Linked DNA regions of Homo sapiens. The protein of the gene in region 1 purifies or fractionates together with the protein of each later gene. This does not show direct contact. Each region holds a gene or a part of one and is shown on either strand. Other genes may lie near its edges.

Region 1 (7,023 bases):
TGGGAGTCACCTGCATACTCCTGATATCCCTGCAAGCCAGAACCAGGGAAGACCTTCTTAGGGGTTGTCAGATTGAAGTTTGGAACTTCACAGTCCTTCAGCTATAGGACCAGGTGACTTAGAATGGCTTCATAGGAGTCCACATGGTTTTCTAGCTCATTGGCTGTTACGTCAGAGGGCTAGGGTAGAAGAGTAATCACAATAGTTGTTTTTGCTCATTTAATAATGATAATAGGCAGCATCTAGAATTAACGGAGCCCTTGCTATGTATCAGGCACTTACACTAGATTTTACATACTTTATCAAATCTTGCAACAGCCCTCTAAAGCAGGGGTCCCCAATCCCTGGGCCATGGACCAGTGTCAGTCTATGGCCTGTTGGGAACCGAGCCGCATAGCAGGAGGCAAGCGAACATTACCACCTGAGCTCCGCCTCCTGTTAGATCAGCCATTGCAATAGATTCTCACAGAAGTGCGAACCCTATCGTGACCTGCACATGTGAGGGATCTAGGTTGTGAGCTCCTTATGAGAATCTAATGCCTGATGATCTGAGGGGGAACAGTTTCATCCTCAAACCACCCCCTCTCCCAGCCGTGGAAAAATTGTCTTCCACAAAACCGGTCCCTTGTGCCAAAAAGGTTGGGAACCTCTGCTCTAAAGTATGTGTAATCATCCCCATCTCACAGGTAGCGGAATGGAGGGAAGCCAAGGAACTTACTCAGGGTCACTTTCTTAGGGTCTCTTTTATTAATTTGTTTTCCTTCTAGGGGGGCTTGACCAAACTGCATTTATTTATTTATTTATTTATTTATTTATTTTGAGAGGGAGTCTGGCTCTGTTGCCCAAGTGGCAGTACAGTGGCACGGTCTCGTCTCACTGCAACTGCTGCCTCCCAGGTTTAAGAGATTCTCCTGCCTCAGCCTCCCGAGTAGCTGGGAGTACAGGCGCTCGCCACCCTGCCTGGCTAATTTTTGTATTTTTGGCAGAACAGGGTTTGACCATGTTGGCCAGTCTGGTCTTGAACTCCTGATCTCAAGTGATCCACCCACCTCGGCCTCCCAAAGTGCTGGGATTACAGGTGTGAACCACCGCGCCCGGCCCCGAACTGCATTTCTTAAGCAACAGTTTATTTGTTCTGGATGTCTAATGCCAACTGAGTTTACATAATTCCAGCCTAAAGCAATCTTTTAGCTTATCTGTGCAGCTTTAAAACAGATCCATGCACTAGTTCTACCAGGATTTTTTAAATATGGAAAAAAGGAAATAGCTCTGATACCCTGGCACTGCTTTCAAGACGCCTGTGTCTCAGGCCTCAGGGACCCCAGTTAGAAACTGCTGTCCTGAGGTTCAGAAACTATACCCATGTCCCCACCCCCAGCTCTGCTCCTCTGTCCAGTACCTAGAGACATCAGGCCAGCTTGGCAAGGGACAGAGAACCAGGAGAAGGGCGCAGTGTGGGTGGGCCCCTGCCCTTGGTAGTGGGCTTCCCAAGTACCTGTCTGGGGCTAGGAAAAGCAGGGGACGCTGGAGGGCTGACCTGTCTTGGTGTCAGTGTTGGAAAAGGGTAAGTCCCTCAGGTAGCCCCTGTCTAGTCCCCACCTGCTCCACTGAGCCCCCCAGAATCCAGAGATCCTCCCACACTCCTTTCGACAGTCTTTGCCTCTTCCCTGTACCCCTTGCTCCCAGCTCGGGGTGGTCCCCGGGCCACATGTCCTGTCTGTCCATGCAGCAGCCACACCTGCCAATGATCACTTTTGTGACTATGCAACTGGAGTGAGAATACTAGCTGCAGATCACAAAAATGACACTGGCAGCTGTGAGGGAGAGAGAGAAAGAGGGAAGAAGGGAGAGGGAAGGACAGAGAGAGGAAAGACAGGCAGCGGGAGGGAGAGGGAGAGACGGACAGAGCAGCAGAGAGAAACTGGCAGACAGGGGAAGGAGGTGGAGAAAAACAGGGGAGAGGGCAGAGAGAAAGGAAGAGAAGCGCGGAGAGGGAGAAATGGAGAGAGAGGGAAAGGGTGAGGCAGAGACAGAGTGAGAGAGAGATGGGGAGAGAGAAGAGGAAGAAAGAGGAAAGGAAAAAGAATGAAAGACACAGAAAAAAGAGGCGAAGAGACGGAGAGGGATGAAGGAGGGACGGAGAGGGATGAAGGAGGGGAGACGGGCAGGCGGGAGTGAGAGACGGAGGGGGCAGCAAGGCAGCGCAGTGCAGGGCCTGGAGACAGCGGGGCAGGAGGGAACTGGAAGGAGAAAGGAAGCAGGGGTCCTGGAGAGGGAGGGGAGACAGAAAGCAGAGGGCCCTCTGGAGGAAGCAGGTGGAGGAGAAGGAGCCAGTCCCGGGAGCGTGAGAGGGAGGGAGCAGAGCAGCAGCGGCCGGCGCGGAGCTGGCCCACGCGGGTGGTGGAGGCTCGGGGAAGGGCACAGCCGGAGCCTCAGGCCTGCTTTTAGGGGTGGGAGCGTGGGGTCTGGAGCGGGCGGCCAGAAGTCAGAGGCCGAGGCTCCAGGCCCGACCCGGGGCTCCAGGCCGAGCGGCGGGCGGACCCCGGCTCCGCCCCCGCCCATGCGGTCCCTCCAGGCGGGGGCGCCCGCGCTCACCTGCGGAAGTCCAGCAGGGGCCGCGTGGAGGCCGGTGTGCCCTCTGCCGGCCAGCTGAGGAAGTGGAACTGCGTGAGCGTGCGCGTCTCCTGGGTCTGCACGTTCTTCAGGTAGAAGCTCCGCACCAGAAAGTCCTCGCACCAGATGTGCTCCGACACCAGGTTCACCTGCCCGGCAGGGGCCCAGGCCTGAGCGCCGCGGGCTGCCCCAGTCCCCGCGTTGCGCGCGCTCTCCTCGCGACCTTCTCGGTCTCTCCAACCACCGCCCGGCCTCCCAGGCCGGTTCAAATTCTAAGTTCCAGCGGTCCCAGGAACCCTGGCTGCCTGTCACTTATCTACTGCTCAGGACCACTAGTAGCTTTTCCACCCAGACACAGCTATTGTGAGCCTCTCGAGGTCGGAGTTTCTCCTCCCTCTTCCTCGCAGGGTCTACCAGAGTATCGGTGCTACACGTGCCATAAACTTGGATGAAATTCTGTAGTATTCTTACTGGATTTTTTTCGTTAACCACCAGCAGGACCAATGAAAGGCTTTTTAAAAAAACCGTCATGTGCTTATTTGGTGGGGAAAAAATTACTATTCAGGCTCATCTGGTGATGAGAAGCTTCTGCTGTGTTCTTAAGGTTTTTTTGTCTTAGTGGGGACTCACGTTCTCCCATTTGTCTGAAATATTTCTCTTTCCCCTGCTTGGCCTCTGCCCAGTTCCCCCTCCTTCTCCACCCCTCCACCTAGTCTCTCTCCTAATGAAAAAGTTTGTTTCTCTTTTACATTAGTAACGTATGTAACGGGTGGTATGTCTTTCTTTGCTTTGGCCACCAGGAAACTCAGAGCTAAATTAGGTTCAATTAACGTAGGTCTTAATCTCAGTCTTTGGGTATCCTTATCTTCCCTGTCTAATATACACTTAGCTGTTAGCTTCTTACCTCGGTTTTGGTGGTTTTATAGTTTGATCTCTGTGCCTTTATCATAAGTCTCTATGAACGCTTTTTGACTCTAGACAGGACACACACACACACACACACACACACACATGTATGTTCTGTAAACAGGACACACACATGTATATATGTGAATATATGGGTATGCATATATGTGTTTATATATATTCATATATGTATGAATCATGAGCAGGGCCAATAAAAGCCTTTTTAAAAAGACTGTTGAGTGCTCATTTGGTGAAGAAAACGTTACGAAAAGGCCATCATCTACTCTTCCCACATCCATTGTCCCCTTGCTGTGGGGCCCTGCTGACCTCATATACGTGGTAGAGGGAGGCACCCTCATCTGGCCAGTAGCGGTCACACTGCTTGACACCATCCTCCACCAGCGGGGTCAGCATGACGATGACGGTGCAGCCGCTCTCCCACACCATCTAGGGACAGAGACCCAGTTGAGCTCCACTCTAACCTCCCTGGGACCTCGTGGCCACAAGGACCCCAGCGAAGCCCTCCCTTTAAGAGCCCACCTGCCAGAAGTCTGCGATGGTATGGGACAGCGGGCCCTGCGTGGCTATGTAGGCTGGCATCCGAGGGTCATGCTCAATCTGGAGGCAGGGAAGATACACCATGAGCCAGTGTGGGAAATGCCACTATGGACAGGCGTGGTCAGAGCAAGTGGGTCAGGGTCTGAGAAGGCTGGCAGTTCCCCCTTGCTAGGATATCAGGCCCCACCACTCCAGGGGGTTGGTGGGGTGGCAGGTGACCACGGGGAAATGGAGTGCATAGGGCCAGGATAATGATGGGGCAGAGGTGGGGGCTGGAGTCAGGGCCACTCACAATGGGGCTGGCGTTGATGTAATCGCTCCGAGAAGGGCTGCTCTCCACCTTCAGTTTTATGCGGGCATGGTCATCTGCACAGACCCGACACCCCACCCCAGATGGCCCTCTGGTCATTGGCATCGCGGGACCTCTGCCACTCAGCCTGAGCCAGAAGCCCAACCCCTTACCCCAAGCCCTCCAGACCTCGCAGCAGAGAGAGGGCTGGGCCAGGTGGGCCAGCAGGGTTCACTCACAGGGCAGGAAGTCAGGATGCCGGTTCTTTTTGATGTTGCCCTCCCCCTGCGCGGTGGCACAGGTGTTTGGCTCTGCTTGGTAGGCACAGAGGGCCTGCCACTCCTTGGCAAGGCGGTCCCGGTTCCGCAGGTGATCCTCCATGTATGCCTGTGGGGGCACCACGGTCTGGCTCTGGCCCACACAGCCAGCCTGGCCTCTCTCACCATCCCATTCCTTCACCCACTCTGGGCCCAGGCCCTGTCCTGACCAGAATCATGTGTCCCGTGGAGATGTCCATGTTGGCTTGGGCCGGCTCCTCGCACCAGGACGGGGTGCTGCTGTGGGAGCTGGGGCTGGCCTGGGCTGCGTCGCTGAACTGGGAGGACACACTGCTCACCCGTGAAGGCTCCGGTGGACCCTCTGCCCGGTTGAACAAGGACTTCGTGGCCATGTGCTGGCGGCACAGGTCCTGTGGAGGAAGAATCAGGTGAGGTCCAAGAGTCCCCTGAAACTTTTCAACAGGGCCCTGGGTTCAACTCTGGGCTCCTAGGCTTGCCCTTGACTGATTTTCAGTGGAACTCAGCTCCTCTGGGGTATGGTCTTCTGCCTGGCCCTGATCCTTTCCAGGGCTGTTTTGCTTGGGTGGTGCTTATGTCAACCTCAGACATGACAGAGTGGAATCCCAGAGCCCCAGAAGCACAGCACCAAGAAGAACCTTAGGCACTGTATGCTCCCAATTCCCATGCGTTCATAAAGGCCCCTACCATACTCCCTCCCACTGGGGCTTCTCCAGCCTCCACTGGACCTTCCCAGGGATGAGGGCTCACTCCCCATTCAGTTCCGACCCTTAGTCCACGCAAGACCCAGACTCCCAGGCCCCTTGCATTTCCTTTGCTCAATCAGCTTCTGGGGCTGCACACCTGGTACTCAAAGGTAGTGTCACCATGGGCCCCCTCAGGCCCCAGGGCTGCCAGGCGCTCCTTGTCTTGCTGCCGCGCATGCTGCCGCACACACAGAGCCACAGCCAGAGCCACCAGCAGCCCAGCCACACCTGCCAGGGCCACCAGAGTGAGCAGCACTGAGCGCATGGGTGAGGTGCTGTGCGCAGTTTGGGGAAGGACTGCAGCTGCCTCCTCCCTCTGTGGGAACAAGGCTAGAATCAAGGGAGGCAGTGGCATAGGGAGGTTTCAGAGCTGCTCCTCACCCCGGTCCCATGCCACACCCCCTGTTAGGACATCTCCTGGGGCAAAGCTGGGAGATTAGGGGTATGGTGGTACAGCCAGATGGGCTCAGATTCTCCTTCTCAATCCCCATCGGATCAACTCAACCACAGTGCAGTGCCAGAGGCCCCCACCAGGAGTGTTTGCATTTAAAAACGGACAGAGAACCCTAGGAATTGAATTGTAGAACGTGAGGCATCAGTGTTGGATGCAGAAGACAAAGGTATTTTGAGTATAGGCCGGGCGTGGTGGCTCACACCTGTAATCTCAGCACTTTGGGGGGCCAAAGGTTGGCGGATCACCTGAGATCGGGAGTTCGAGACCAGCCTGGCCAACATGGTGAAACCCCATCTCTACTAAAAATACAAAAAAAAATTTAGCCGGGTGTGGTGGCAGGCACCTGTAATCCCAGCTACTTGGGAGGCTGAGGCAGGAGAATCGCTTGAACCTGGCAGGTGGAGGTTGCAGTGAGCCGAGATCGAGCCACTGCACTCCAGCCTGGACAGCAAGAGTGAAACTCTGTCTCAGACAAACAAACAAAACATATTTTGAGTATAATGTCCTTTCTGTGCAAGGTGTTCCCTTGGAATTTGGAGACTGCGCTCCAGCAGACTAAGGGCGGCTCAACTAGTTCTCAGGCCTTTTTACTACAGAGGGCTGGTCCTGCAGGGAGGGGACACCTACGCCATCTGCTGGTGAGAAAGAGAACTGCGGGGAGGGGCTGCTTGGGCGAAGGCCGCCTCCAGCCAGCCGTGCCTACGGACACGTTTCGGCTCCAGTTCTCCCCTCTGGTTTGCCTCCAGCTCTTGCGGACAACATCAGCCCTCTGGGGACTTGGACTGATTCTCCAGTTAGCGCATACCTGTCCCACTCCTGTCTGCAAGATTTGGAGCCCTGTCTGTGCTTCCAGTTCAGACTTCACCAGCCCTGCAGGGAGGACAAAGGTCAGGCTTGCTCCAGCCCCATGTGGTCTCCATCCTCTGTCTTGCTCTGCCAAGCAGCAGGCAGGGCCCATGTGGGCTGGGAACATTTCAAGGGGGCATCAGCAACAGGCCTGGATATATCCTCTTAGGAGTGGGGCTGGGGCCAAGCCTGGGATTGAGGTCGCAGAGATATTTACCTGCTTGTTGGGTCACATCAGCCAAAGACAGGTTCTGCTCATTGTGCCGGATGCGGAAGGTGAGGGCTGGTCCCACCACACTGCCAGATAGGAGCTAT
Region 2 (6,253 bases), about 190 Mb from region 1:
CTGCTAGAGCGTATCTCTAGTACTGCTGACTTGAAACATTTAAGGAAACAAAATTGAGAACTAAGAAACCAGCAGAGTTATCTAACTCCTTATAGTCTCAAGTCAAAAATAAAAAGGGGCTTCGGTGATAAACCTTGGACTCATGTGTCCCTTGGAGTTCTAAATCTTTCACTCACTGCTCTATAAAATGAAGGTCCTGGCAAGGAAAGGACACCTCCTGGTCACTGGCCAAGAATTCCCCTAGGAGACGGCCCCCTGCTTTTCTAAGCGTAAAACTATCAAGGCAAATCTGGGACGTGAATCACAGTGACAAGTCAGACACTATAATTAGGGTAGCAAGAGAAGTGTCTAGAACACCCACCAGGTCAAACTTTAGAACCATGTGTGTGGGCTTCCCCCACCAGGAGCTTAATTACAGCCACGGCTACAGTCTTCAGGAGGGCAAGGGCCCAGGATTTTGTTATTCTGAACCATAACTAGGGGAATTTCTATATGAGGATGCAGACAAGAATGCTAGAAATCAAATCTGTGTCCTTTATTCCACCTGGTAGGGCATACCCAAGAACCATATACTGAGTCCTGTCTCAGGTTGATGGAGGGTTCCCTGGGCCCAAGGCACACAACTGCCTGTGCTCTGCTCTACAGATGATAGGAGGGATGGACAGTGGAGAGAAGCTGAGCCTTGTGACCAAGACCCCCAGCATGATGGGGAATGGAAAGTTGGAAGAAGTAGGACTACAAGGGAGGGGACAGGGAGGGGCTTAGAGGCATTTGGGGCAGGCTGGGCATTTTGAAGTGAGAGGCATTTCCATCCAGCTCCCCATGTCCACTGACAGCCACACCCAGGCTTCAGGTGGAGGTGAGGCTGCTGTTTCCCAATGCGGTGCTATATTCTTCTGGAAGCCCCTTTCCTTCTGCTGTGGCTAGAGCTGTGACCAAGAATGGGAACAGGAGGCTGCTAAAGTCTGGAGAAGCAGGAATCATTTGTCAGAAGAACACAGAAGCCACCTGCTGGGAGTTCTATCTTTTTAGAGATGAGCTGTTTGGGGTTTAGAAATGAGATGGAAGGAAGTGGAAGGCAGAGGGCAAGGGCGGAGTTGTGAGAGGCTACCAGCACAAGGATGGAGGCTGGGGGCCATGTGCAGTAGGGCCAGAAAAGTGTTCAGTGGAATTGTGGGTAGGAGGCTGAGATGCTGCTGGGCCCTGTCCCCACCAAAGATGGAAGAACTGAGGTGGAGGCAACTGGCCACTTGCCTAGGAGAGAACTCAGGCACCAAGTTAAAAAGACTCCCATGAAGAACTGCCACCTTCTACCCGCTGCAGTCTTGGATGGTCTACCCATGCAGAAATCAGTGGCCAGGAAGGCAGGGCCTACTGCTGGGATATCAGGGCAAGTGCCCAGTCCAAGAAAGCCACTGTAATGTCCTGTAGGCAAAGCCAGGTCCAGTGGACAGCCTCACTGAGCTGTGTCTTCATGCAGTCCCAGGTCACCTCACCTCTGGAAGGAAAGTGGAACATTTTTGAGTATGCACGTGAGTAGCTGTGTCAACTTTCGGGGATGAAAGCTTAGACCCACAACCCTCATCCCAGGGTGGCCAGGAATGGGAGCGAGGGGCAGGACAGTGTGGGAGACTGGATAGAGATGGCTTGTCCCTGGGGCCCGGGAATGGGGCTGCTGGGGATCCTGCCGGAGCCCTGGGCAAAGGTCTCACCTGCATGCCTCATGGCAGTGCTCCTGGGCCCAGGCCAGGGCCTCAAGCAAGAGGTGCCACAGTGGCAGCAGCACATTCTGGTGGAAAAGCAGGGGCAGCTCTCTCAGATAGCGGAGTAGCTGATTCACGGAATCGGGGAGCTGGATCTGTAGCTGGACCATGGAGAATGGATGGGGTCAGAGTATCCAGGGAACTGCATCCTGGCCCTAAAGACTCAGGCCACACAGTGCTGCTCCTTTCCCAGAATTCTGCTCCTGGGAAAACCAGCCCCTTATTTGACTCCCTGTCTCTGACTTACCCTCTGAGAGAGACTGGTGAGACTGTCACCAAACCACGCAAGGTGAGAGGCACAGTGGGCAGAAAGGAAGCTGACTGTGGCATTGGTGTGAGCCCAGGCCAGCTGCAAGCTGGGCCGCACCACGGTGAGCAGGTGGGAGCCCCAGAGCGGCAGTGTCTCCCCCAGCCAGCTGTGGAAGATGGAAGTGGGGGAAGAGGGCTCTGAGTCTCCTCAGGCCCACTTAGCTCCCAAGAAACAGCTGGGGAAAGGGAGGCCGTGGGAAAGGAGAATCACAAGCGCTTCCCACTGACTGTCGCCTCCTCCCTGACACCCAGGCCTTCTCTCTTCTGCCTCTCCTCTCCCCTCCCTGGGAGGAGCTCACCTGTAGCCTTGCAGACTGTAGGAGTAGAGCTTGGCACACGCTTGTTGGCTAGCAGGTAAGAAGCCAGATGATCGAAGCAACCGGCCAGTAAGGGAGGCTAAGTAAAGGGGGCCTCTGGTGAGCTGGGAGGTGAGAGGGGCAGGGACTGGGGAGACAGACACTACAGGGCCCAGAGCAGGCACAGCGAGGCGCTGGGCAGAGCTTTGTGTTCTCACAGGGCCACAAAGCCAGCTCCAGGCTGCTGTGGAGGGAGGCATGCAGAGCTGCCCTTCTCCTGCTGGGCCAGGTGTGCAGGAATGCAGCTGCCGGTTGGAGCCTAGGCTCAGGCTTCAGGAAGCCTCAGGTTGAGGGTCTGCCCTTCTACTTACTAGCTATGACCTAAAGCTAATTGCTACATCTTTCTGAGACCATTTCCTCAGGAGTTAAAAGGAGGTAACACCTACTAAAATGATACTATGAATATGCAAGCACTTCTATACTGCGAAGTCCTAGTCCAATCTGAAATGGTAGTGTCATATCTGTGGACAAAAAAATCTGTCTGTAAAGTGTTTACTCTGCAGGATTGAGAACTCGTCAGGACAAAGATGTGTGCTGCTGGGGGCGGGGTGGTGGTGCTACGTGTAGCTCTGTGCCCCGCCCACACCATCCTCCTCGCTTGCCCATTGCTGCTTACCCTGGAAGGAGCTGTGTGACCGGAGGTCATGGCACAGGAAGCCTACAGCGAAGACCAGCAGCAACAGGAGGAGCCGCGTCCAGGGCAGCCGAGGACCCTGAACCTGCTGCAACAGGCCCTGGTGGGAGGGGAGCAGGAGACAGTTGTCAGAAGCGAGGGGCTGGTCTTTGCCTCTGAGGGCAGACCTCAAGCCAGGCCTTCCCGAAAGAGCGTCAAGCCTTCACATTATCCTGGAGGCAGCGGGGGGCTCCAGACAGGTGGGGCAGGAATGTGATACAGGCCCAACCCAGGTGTGCTGAGACAGAGATGTAAGATAGCGTGTGGGCTGGAGAGGACCGGGTGCCAGCACCTTGCAGGCCATGTCACAGGTGACGACATCCTGGTTGTTACTGCTACCCTTCCTCAGCAGCTCCTGGTTGGTAAGCTTGAGGGACTGAATGGTTTCTTGCAAAGACTTCTGTACCTATGGACAAGAAAGGTCTGGCCTGTGAGGGAATCCAGAGCTTCCATCCTGCTTCATTTTCCATGCCAACAGGGTCCCTTCTCAGGGAAGGGACAGTGGCTGAGGAGCCCCCACTCAGAACCTAGAATCCAGACAGGGCTCAACCTGCCACGTCCTCCCAGCTCCTCACCTTCTTGGGAATCTGCTCCCAGGAGCTGAGCAAGTGCTCCAGCAGAAGGCTGTGGGGAAAGCACAACCCCCTAGTCAGGTGGCTCGCGCAGCCTCACCCATCCTCCTGTCCTCCATTAGCCCTGGCTCCTTCAGGCTGAAAGACCCTCCACCTACCACCCACAGAGCAGCAGCTTCCTAGAGGCTGCTCCAGCAATGTTCCCACTCAGCCTGAAAGGTGTCAGGCCATGGGACAGTGACCCAGGCTCCCCTTCTGCTTCTAGCACAGGGACAGGCTGGCCTCCCACCCCACCTGCCTGGACTGTGACAGGTGCTTAGGGTACAGCTGCCTCCAGACGCTGGCACTGAGGGGGTCCACCGTCAGGCACTCAGTCAGGCTGCTCAGGAGCTGCACAGCACGACAGAGGGAGAGGCTGCTGGGGGCATGGGGCTGGCAGAGGCGGGGAGTGCTAAGAGGTGATCCCCTTCCCGTAAGCAAGGCCATCCAGGCCGCACATCCACCCTAAGGGGTGGAGAAACAGTGTCAAGACTCCAGAAAGCTCTCTGAGAGGCTGTAAAGCAGGAGGCTGGGGCTCCTGAGCTAGAGCTTTGAGCTCAAAGATCACTATCTGCAAGAGACGGGCATCAGAAACCACCCAGACCTGAATGTGCTGTCTCTTGGGATCCATCTTCTGAGGGTGAAGCTCGAGTGAGCGGGGCAGGCAGCTGTCAACAGGGAGCTAAGGAAAAGCCTCAGAATGGGCTCTGTGAAGGCAAGGCCTTTGTCAGCAGATAGGGACCGCTACAGCTGACCCCTGGGGAAGGAGAAAAAGCCTCCCACCATATCCTCACCTCTTTCTTCATCTCAGGGGGACAGCTAGGGGTGGCTCTGGACAGGAAAGAAGGGAAGTAGGTATGCAGGGTGGAATCCGGCTTTGCTCCAAATGCCAGCACTTTCAGTCGGGGGTAGAGCTGACACAGCTGCTCCTGCAGGCTGGGTGGGGTGGGGAGGAAAGACAGGCATAAGCTATAAGTGGAGCTGTATGATATGAACCTTTTGCTTGCTTCAGAGCCCATGCCTGCCTGTGGGGAATAGCCACTGAGGACCTTGCAATGGCTCTGAATCTTTTTACTCAGAGACTCCTTGGAAATCTGTTGAAAGCCATGGACCCTATCCCTAAGAAAATGCCCATATGCCAATCACACTCAAGGGTCCATATAATTTCAAGGGGTCACTGTTCCCTTGAAACCTACTCTTGAACTTCCAGGTTGCAAATCTCAGATCTAGGATGGCTGGGGAAGGAGAGACGGGAATATGTAGTGTGGTTCTGGTGCTGTGGTCCCTTCTCAGCAGGTGTGCCCCAGAGCAGTCCTACCTGGGTGTCAGGGAGTTGTTCGGCATATAGGCAAAGTCCAGAAGTGGGAAGAAGTCCTTGGGGCCAATCATGCCGAAGCCCTTGGTAAGGTTGGGATGCATCCTGTGGGGATGAAGAAACAGGCTCGCTGGACACCACCACCCATGCCAGCTGTTTTGGCCATGACCCCAGCTAAGCCAACATCTAGGAAAAAGGGTATAAACTCTACCCCATCTGCCAGCCCTTAATAGCTCCCTCTTCTTCCTTCCTCACCATCACATTCTAAGGTGGTGGGAGAAGCTGGTCCTGATTTTCCTCATATCCATGGAGACCAAGATCATAGCCTCCCATTTTGCTATAACAGCCACTTGGGACACCCTGAGCCTTCCCCTTGCTGCCCTCCCATTACTCACAGGAGCAGCCGATCCAGGTATGTGATGGCAAAGGGAGACAGAGACTTGATGCCCAGCACAGGCAGCATGATCCCCAGCCACACTGCAGGGGTAAAAGTCACGAGGGAGGCCTCAGGCTTGCACCTACTGGGGGCATCAAAGAGGAGTTTTCCAGCTCCGAGACCCTCCCTCTTTCTTCCCTATTTCCCTGTTACCTTTCAGTCCCTCGGTGAGGTTGGCAAAACCTGCTTGACCCAGGGCCCACATGATGGTGAGACACTTTGCTGGTCGGCTCTGGTGGGACCTCAGCAGTTCCAGGAACTGAGGAGACCGGTGGGGAAGGCAGATTGGGATAGGACAAAACACCAGGAGCACCCCCCAAAGCCAGGAGGGAAGGGAGATGTCAACTGGAAGAGGGAGGACAGGCCGAGCAAGAGTGGAGCACTATGGCCACGTGGTGCAGGTTCTGTTTGTGGGCTTCGCCCATACTCTGCCATTTACTGGATGACTGAGCCTAGGAAAGTTACTGAACTCCTCTGTGGCTCAATCTTTTCATCTATAAAAATGGGAAATAATAGCAGTACCTTGCTCCTATGTTTCCAGAGCACACACACAGGATAGGTGCTAATAGTGTTACCCATTATTACTAGGCTTACAGGTCTTCCACTATCCCAAACCTGAGTCCAACAACATAGATTCTGCCCAGCCTCCCCAGTCCTAGCTTCCTAGCATCCCCACCATCACTGAGAGCTCACCTTGCCTAGGTTTGCCGTGGCAATCTTGGGCTTGTCTTGCAGGATGGCCTGGATACAGATGCGGTAACCATGTAGTGACTCCCCTGGAGAGATACAC
Region 3 (8,005 bases), on another chromosome or scaffold:
AGTATAGCAACGGGCCTCAGAGCCTATTGAGACATTTGGGACTGTTTGCTTCTACACCAGCACTTTGGGAGGCTGAGGTGGGTGGATCACTTGAGGTCAGGAGTTCCAGATCAGCCTGGCCACCTGGTGAAACCCTGTCTTTACCAAAAATACAAAAATTAGCCGTGTCTGGTGGCCCACGTCTGTTAATCCCAGCTACTCCAGAAGCTGAGGCAGGAGAATCGCTTGAACCTGGGAGGCAGAGGTGGCAGTGAGCCAAAATCGCACCACTGCACTCCAGACTAGCCCACAGAGCAAGACCCCGTCTCAAAAAAAAGTATAGCAGTGTAGAATAAATTGGTATAGAAGCAACAGTCCCAAATGTCTCAATAGGCTCTGAGGACATCACTCTATTAAAATTCATATCAGCATCGATATTCATTTTAATGATCTCAAGATAAAATCAAGTAAAGATAAAACTGCACTCCAGGCTCACCACTGCACTCCAGACTAGGCCACAGAGCAAGACCCCGTCTCAAAAAAAAAGTATAGCAGTGTAAAATAAATTGGTATAGAAGCAAACAGTCCCAAATGTCTCAATAGGCTCTCAGGACATCACTCTACTAAAATTCATATCAGCATCTAAACTCATTTTAATGATCTCAAGATAAAATCAAGTAAAGATAAAACTGCATTGCATAAACTCTGTTTAGTAAATCGAGGACCAGAGAAATACATTTGCCAAAGGGTTTTGAGTTAGAGTGCTCACAAAAGGTTGGTGCTTAAGGGGAACAAATGAGTAAAAATTATTATGGTCATAGACAGCTGAAGTTTAACTGAATTTATTAATTTACCTGAGGTAATTATTATGTATATTTCAAATAAAATAGTAATTCCGTTTTCCTAAAGGTAAAAATACATTAGGTATACATTCCCGAGTCACTGCCCATAAACTAGGATCAGAACAACCAGAATTATAAGGATCAAAATACTGACGTTATTCCTTTAATGCCTTAAAATTAGTCTTTCTTTGTACATTTGGCATAGGACAAAGGCGAGCTCATTTTGGACAGATTTGTTAAACTATCAAGAGGTTGTCAGGCAATTAGGCAGCAGGTCATTACTAAGACCGATACCTTCAAGTATCTATTAAAACCATCATTTTGAAACTGTGAAATCTGGAAAGTGATCAGCTACAAAGGGCCAAATATGGAATGCAGAAGATACAGAATGTGGTGGCTTTGTGTCCGGGATTGGTGGGTTCTTGGTCTCACTGACTTCAAGAATGAAGCTGCGGACCCTCGCGGTGAGTGTTAACAGCTCTTAAGGTGGCACGTCTGGAGTTTGTTCCTTCTGATGCTCAGATGTGTTCAGAGTTTCTTCCTTCTGGTGGGTTCGTGGTCTCGCTGGCTCAAGAGCGAAGCTGCAGACCTTCGTGGTGAGTGTTACAACTCTTAAGGCGGCGCGTCTGGAGTTGTTCGTTCCTCCCCGTGGTCTCGCTGGCTTCAGGAGTGAAACTGCAGACCTTCGCGGTGAGTGTTACGGCTCATAAAAGCCGTATGGTCCCAAAGAGTGAGCAGTAGCAAGATTTATCGCAAAGAGCGAAAAAACAAAGCTTCCACACTGTGGAAAGGGACCTCAGCGGGTTGCCACTACTGGTGGGCAGCCTGCTTTTATTCTCTTATCTGGCCCCACCCACATCCTGCTGATTGGTAGAGCCGAGTAGTCTGTTTTGACAGGGCGCTGATTGGTGCGTTTACAATCCCTGAGCTAGACACAAAGGTTCTCCACGTCCCCACTAGATTAACTAGATACAGAGTGTTGACAGAAAGGTTCTCCAAGGCCCCACCAGAGTAGCTAGATACAGAGTGTCGACTGGTGCATTCACAAACCCTGAGCTAGACACAGGGTGCTGATTGGTGTGTTTACAAACCTTGAGCTAGATACAGAGTGCCGATTGGTGTAGTTACAATCCCTGAGCTAGACATAAACGTTCTCCACGTCTCCACCAGACTCAGGAGCCCAGCTGGCTTCGCCCAGTGGATCCCGCACCGGGGCTGCAGGTGGAGCTGCCTGCCAGTCCCGCGCCGTGCACCCGCACTCCTCAGCCCTTGGGTGGTCGATGGGACTAGGCACCGTGGAGTAGGGAGCGGCGCTCATCGGGGAGGCTCGGGCCGCACAGGAGCCCACGGAGTGGGTGGGAGGCTCAGGCATGGCGGGCTGCAGGTCCCGAGCCCTGCCCCGCGGGAAGGCAGCTAAGGCCCGGCGAGAAATCGAGCGCAGCGCCAGTGGGCTGGCACTGCTGGGGGACCCAGCACACCCTCCGCAGCCGCTGGCCCGGGTGCTAAGCCCCTCATTGCCCGGGGCCGGCAGGGCCGGCCTGCTGCTCCCAGTGCGGGGCCCGCCAAGCCCACGCCCACTCGGAACTCCAGCTGGCCCGCAAGCGCGGCGCGCAGCCCCGGTTCCCGCTCACGCCTCTCCCACCACACCTCCCTGCAAGCTGAGGGAGCCGGCTCCCACCTTGGCCAGCCCAGAAAGGGGCTCCCACAGTGCAGCGGTGGGCTGAAGGGCTCCTCAAGTGCCGCCAAAGTGGGAGCCCAGGCAGAGGAGGCCTGGAGAGCGAGCAAGGGCTGTGAGGACTGCCAGCACGCTGTCACCTCTCAGCTTGGGTGCTGCAACAGGCAAAGCAGCAGCCTGGGTTTCTCCAGCCCCGTCACTCGAACCCACGGGCTCATCACCGCACGGTGCGGCCAGACGCCCTTTCTCCTACGTTGGGAGCGAATCTCCTCGGCTCACACAACCCAGCCACCGGCTCCCACCGCGCTGGAACCCCTCTGGCAGCGAGGGTTTGTCCCAGTGCGGGTGACGCCCGGAAAGGAACCAGTCCCAACAGCGCAGGAGACTGAGGGGTCCCTCCACCAGGATCCGCTCACCTGCTTCCAGGTGTGTCGCCTAAGAGCGGCTCCTGTTCACTTTCGTTCCGCAGGCCGGCCATAGTTACACTCCCTACAAGGCGTCTTGCGCCCAACTCTCGCGACACCTGCTTTCTCCCATCCCGGGTGGCGTGAAGCTGGCAAAACAAGCCTGTAAGTGCGCGTGCGCACCTGACGGTCAGACGTAGGCGGAACGCCCCGAGGTCATAGGCGGGGTCACGCGGAAGGCCGGGCAGCGCAGGGCGAAAGGAGGCTGTGTCCTCAGCCTCCTCCCTCGGCACGCGCCTCCCATCCTGACGGGGACTGAGAGCCCAGGAGAGCTCGGGGCGTGTCCAAACTGCCGCGCCGCCCTGCTCCGGGTTTGTCTTCCTCCCTCCGTTTCTCCTTCCGCTGTATCTAGCATTTCGGTTCCTGGAAAGGTTACCGGAGCTGCGATTGGGGCTGGGACCAAAGTTGAGTCCTGGAAAGGGAGCCTGGAGAGCGGCGGTGCTGGGAGGCCCGGCCAGCTCGATCGCAGGCTTCCACCTGGCGGCCAGTAAGTAGCCGGTCCGGTTAAGTAGTAGGTGCGCTAAGAGCTCCCCGCGCCTCTTAGCGCGCCGTGTACGCGCCTGGAGGCAGGGACCGGGGACGCGGAGCTGGGCGGGAGACTCGCGGGTCAGGGACGCGGGGTGAGGCTGGGGGTGAGAGACAAGGCTGGAGTCCGTGGCGCGCTTCGGAGGGCTGAGATAATGGGGGCGAGCGCGCGGGCAGTCCCTTCCCCCCGTGAAAGGTAGAGGTGGCTTCCAGCTCTCTTCTCTAGCTCGGCTAAATGCAAAGGCGCCTTACCTGGAGGGCTTGTCAGAGCCAGGACTGAAGGTGGGATCTGCTGCTTGTAACCTGCAGGTCCCCGGATGCGCACCCCAACGGCGCCTGCGCCTACGGGGGCCTCAGCCTTGCAAAATGTCACTCAGCAGAGCCTGCTGCTGAAACGTGGGAGTTGAAAAAGGTACAGCACCTGCCTAGCAATGACCAGCTCCTTTCGTCACAAGGAAGATGACATTTTTAGAAAACATGTCATGGGTTTTCACTAGATCTCCATGTTTATTTCTTGGTGGTTATGTATTAACATCTTATCTCTACTATTAGGCTTGTAGGCTAGCTGGCGTCAGTAGTCATTCTGTGTCTCATAAATTACCGTTTTATTAGCGCCAGATACATTGTCATGTAATTTCATTTGATCACAAGTATCCTATGAGATAGGCGAAGCAGACACATTGCTAGTTTACTGAAAATTAAGATCCAGACAAGTTAACCCAGAGTCACTCTGTGTGGAAGTGGCAAAGTTGGAAACCAAACTTAATTTTTTTAAATTAATATTTATGAGCATTTACCCTATGCTAGGTCCTATACTAGTTACACAGTCATGTATGGTATATGCCATCACTTCTGATCTTTGTGTCATTTGTGACCTTGTGTGTATCAGCCAGGCGCAGTTCACTGGTGAACACCTAAACTTGAAACGTGCGGTCTGGGTGCGATGGTTCATGCCTGTAATCCCAGCACCTTGGGAGGCCAAGGCGGGCGGATCACGAGGTCAGGAGATCGAGACCATCCTGGCTAACACGGTGAAACCCCGTCTCTACTAAAAATACAAAAAAAAAAAAAAAAAAAAAAAAAAAAAAAAAAAAGCCGGGCGTGGTGGCGGGCGCCTATAGTCCCAGCTACTCGGGAGGCTGAGGCAGGAGAATCCCTTGAACCCGGGAGGCGGAGGCTGCAGTGAGCCGAGATCACGCCACTGCACTCCAGCCTGGGCAACAGAGTGAGATTCTGTCTCAAAAAAAAAAAAAAAACCAAAAACCTTGAAACGTGCTATTCAGAAATATCTTCTAAATCAAGACCTGATATTTTGTACTTGGATTCAGTCTTGCAGATTCATTTGTAACAGCTCACAAAAACAAGTCAGATTTGTATTATTGGTTCCAAAAAGACACATAGGTAGAAAAGTTAGTATTTTCTTGCCATAATGTCGCTTTATTATATTGTCTTTTTTAATTCCTGGGGGCTAGCAATGTATGGCACATATATAGTGGACAAGGGGATTTTTAACCAGTATAGCAGTAAGCAGAATGGCTCCTAGATAAATATATGTTGGATGAATGCTCATTGAATTACTTCATCTCATCCTTACAACAATCCTCTGAGGGGGGAATTGTCTCATGTGTACAAGGAAATGGAAGGCAGGGAGATTAAGTAACTTGCCTAGGATCATACTACTAACAAGCAACAGAGCTAGAATTCAAGAAATGCAGGACTCCTGATCCTAAGCCTGTGCTCTTTACCACCAGGCTTCTTATGGGAAAAAATGGCAAAGCGGCAAGAAGAATCTTTCCTTATATCTCATAAAAATATATAGTAGATATTCAGTTTTTATCTAAGTGAAATAATTGGCTATCATGTATCAGGGCAGATATTACTTTCTGTTTATAGGTTAAGGTGGCTTACTCAAGGTCACACAGCTGGTAGAGGAATCCCAGCCCTCTGACACTGCTCTTTTCCATTGGTGCCTCCAAGTGATGACTTCAGACCACAAAAGCATATGGAATGAGTACATATACAGCTGGTGAAATCTAAGTAAGCTTAGTGTATTGTACCAGTAGGAAAAAAAAAAAAAGAAAATGTCTCTTAGGAACACACACATAGCATCCAAAGTAAACATTTAAACATATATATATATGTAATTTTTTTTTATAAAGCCCATGGAAAAGAGGAGCTAAATTTGAAGAGATTAGATTATTTCCCGAATGTTTCACACAAGAATATGAGACTCCATTTGGTGCATTTCCTTAGGTGACTGCCCAGGATATTTACCCACACCCCTTTCAAACAAACAGCCGGGCGCGGTGGCTCACGCTTGTAATCCCAGCACTTTGGGAGGCCGAGGCGGGCGGATCACGAGGTCAGGAGGTCGAGACCACGGTGAAACCCCGTCTCTACTAAAAATACAAAAAAGTAGCCGGGCGTGGTGACGGGCGCCTGTAGTCCCAGCTACTCGGAGAGGCTGAGGCAGGAGAATGGGGTGAACCCGGGAGGCGGAGCTTGTAGTGAGCCGAGATTGCGCCACTGCACTACAGCCTGGGCGACAGAGCGAGACTCCGTCTCAAAAAATAAACAAACAAACATCCTATTTTCTTACTCTTGTTCAGTGTAAGAGTAAGGAATTATATTTGTTGAATTATATTTGTGAAGCTAGGGAAGTAGATTTTAACAGTGGATATCTGAGGTATCTAAACCCTTTCTTAGCTACTTAAACTTGTATAGACATTATTTAGAAGTGAAATTACAAGATAAAATTTAAAGTCTTCTTTTTTAGGTAAGGGAATAAGTTCTTGTACATGGTGATATTTTTTAAATTTTCATTTATGCCTTTGAGATATGTATCACCAATGTAAGGATAAAAGTCCAGAAAAAATTAGTATTGCATTGTTAAATGCTTAGGTACCCAAATGACAGGAAATAAAAGCACTAGATAGCATAATAAATGATGAGTGTCACTTTAGCAATAGAACTCATTTCTAGGAAAGACTTTTTAGTTCTTGGCACTGTACTAGAACTTCTATTTTTGTTTCCCTTTGCTTTTCCCTTTCACATTGATAACTGTGTCATTTTAGCTTGATATATACTTCAAAAATAGGTTCTATTTCTGCAGAAGCTCATTGTTGTCTGTCCAGCCTGAAGTGGGGACTTTTAAGTATCTGGCATGACTCCAGATGGTGCCTTATTTTGGTGATTTGGAGTTACGTTCACCCTGGGCTTGGATTTTTATCTGTTCATGGTGGCACTAGATACCCTGGACCCAGCCAACCCTGTCTAGAAAGACTTACGTGTTTAGAGAGTTCCACAAAAACTGTCTTTTATGTTGTTCTTGGAGCTGAAATGGGATTTAAGAAGATTTGTATGACCCCAAACCCCAGAACCAAATTTATACTAACCTATATGTGCGTTTGATTTACTTTCTTTTCCTCATTTATTAGTTGTTTATTAGTAGGTAAATATAGTAAGGAATATGCTGTGTCTAAGTTTGGAGTGCTGACTTTTGTGGCCTGTTATGCAGGGAATTAAAGTGATTTGGGAAGGTTTTCTTTTTTTCTTTTTTCTTTTTTTTTTTTTTGAGACGGACTTTTGCTCTCGTTGCCCAGGCTGGAGTGCAATGGTGCAATATCAGCTCACTGCAACCTCCACCTCCTAGGATCAAGGGATTCACCTGCCTCAACCTCCCAAGTAGCTGGGATTACAGGTGCCCACCATCACACCTGGCTAATTTTGTATTTTTAATAGAGACGGGGTTTCTCCATGGGTCAGGCTGGTCTCCAACTCCCAAACTCAGGTGATCCGCCTGCCTCAGCCTCCCAAAGGGCTGCGATTACAGGCATGAGCTACTGGGAAGGTTTTCTAGTTTGGGTTGAAAACTAGAAATAAGTAAATAATTTAGGCAAACAATAAATATAGTACTTTACAAAATATTTGAAAAGTTCATTGTTCTTAGGTCCTTTCTTGCTTCCTTTGCAACTTTCTAATTCTATATTTTTGCTTTATCTTGGTTTTATCTACCAATCTAGAAGAATATCAAAGTTTAGGAAAATGGAGCATCTCATGAGCAGTATATTACTTTTCTTCTTACTGTAAAATATAGGTGTTGGAATTTTTTTTTTTTTTTGGAGACAGGATTTTGCTCTGTTGCCGAGGCTGGAGTGCAGTGGTGCAACGATGTGCACTGTTGCCTCAACTTCCCAGGCTTACACAATCTTCCCTCCACAGCCTACTGAGTAGCTGGGACTACAGGTGTGCACCACCACACCTGGCTAGATTTCAAAATTTTTTTGTAGAGACAGGGTCTCATTGTGTTGCCAGGGCTTGTCTTGCGCTCCTGGGCCCGAGCAGTCCTCCCGTCTTGGCCTCCCAAAGTGCTAGGATTACAATCATGAGCCACTGCGCCTGGCCAGGATTTTTTTTTTTTAAGAGACGAGGTCTCACTATGTTGACCAGGCTGGTTTCAGATTCCTGAGCTCAAGCAATCCTCCCTCCTCAGCGTCCCAAAGTGCTGGGATTGCAGATGT

What was found.
Region 2: the proteins of PTPRN (region 1) and TMEM214 purify together in Homo sapiens (affinity purification with mass spectrometry; 3 studies listed by BioGRID and IntAct, with this or other methods). This does not show direct contact.
Region 3: the proteins of PTPRN (region 1) and MFSD8 purify together in Homo sapiens (affinity purification with mass spectrometry; 2 studies listed by BioGRID and IntAct, with this or other methods). This does not show direct contact.

Annotation. Positions count from the first base shown.
Region 1 is NC_000002.12:219,292,380-219,299,402, forward strand, and holds part of PTPRN (receptor-type tyrosine-protein phosphatase-like N isoform 1 precursor), read right to left. Parts: intron 7,006-7,023; coding exon 6,926-7,005; intron 6,733-6,925; coding exon 6,668-6,732; intron 5,725-6,667; coding exon 5,506-5,724; intron 5,055-5,505; coding exon 4,854-5,054; intron 4,754-4,853; coding exon 4,606-4,753; intron 4,444-4,605; coding exon 4,370-4,443; intron 4,138-4,369; coding exon 4,060-4,137; intron 3,967-4,059; coding exon 3,847-3,966; intron 2,763-3,846; coding exon 2,596-2,762; intron 1,822-2,595; exon of another isoform or gene 1,732-1,821; intron 1-1,731. UniProt on the Homo sapiens protein: Plays a role in vesicle-mediated secretory processes. Required for normal accumulation of secretory vesicles in hippocampus, pituitary and pancreatic islets.
Region 2 is NC_000002.12:27,035,956-27,042,208, reverse strand, and holds the end of TMEM214 (transmembrane protein 214), read right to left. Parts: intron 6,240-6,253; coding exon 6,157-6,239; intron 5,723-6,156; coding exon 5,617-5,722; intron 5,505-5,616; coding exon 5,423-5,504; intron 5,133-5,422; coding exon 5,031-5,132; intron 4,649-5,030; coding exon 4,507-4,648; intron 4,420-4,506; coding exon of another isoform or gene 4,408-4,419; exon of another isoform or gene 4,395-4,407; coding exon of another isoform or gene 4,317-4,394; intron 4,178-4,316; coding exon of another isoform or gene 4,064-4,177; coding exon 3,972-4,063; intron 3,726-3,971; coding exon 3,677-3,725; intron 3,508-3,676; coding exon 3,394-3,507; intron 3,163-3,393; coding exon 3,045-3,162; intron 2,469-3,044; coding exon 2,372-2,468; intron 2,180-2,371; coding exon 2,011-2,179; intron 1,865-2,010; coding exon 1,713-1,864; intron 1,499-1,712; coding exon 1,372-1,498; 3' UTR 515-1,371; downstream 1-514. UniProt on the Homo sapiens protein: Critical mediator, in cooperation with CASP4, of endoplasmic reticulum-stress induced apoptosis. Required or the activation of CASP4 following endoplasmic reticulum stress.
Region 3 is NC_000004.12:127,962,160-127,970,164, forward strand, and holds the start of MFSD8 (major facilitator superfamily domain-containing protein 8), read right to left. Parts: upstream 3,015-8,005; 5' UTR 2,975-3,014; coding exon 2,913-2,974; intron 1-2,912. UniProt on the Homo sapiens protein: Outward-rectifying chloride channel involved in endolysosomal chloride homeostasis, membrane fusion and function. Conducts chloride currents up to hundreds of picoamperes.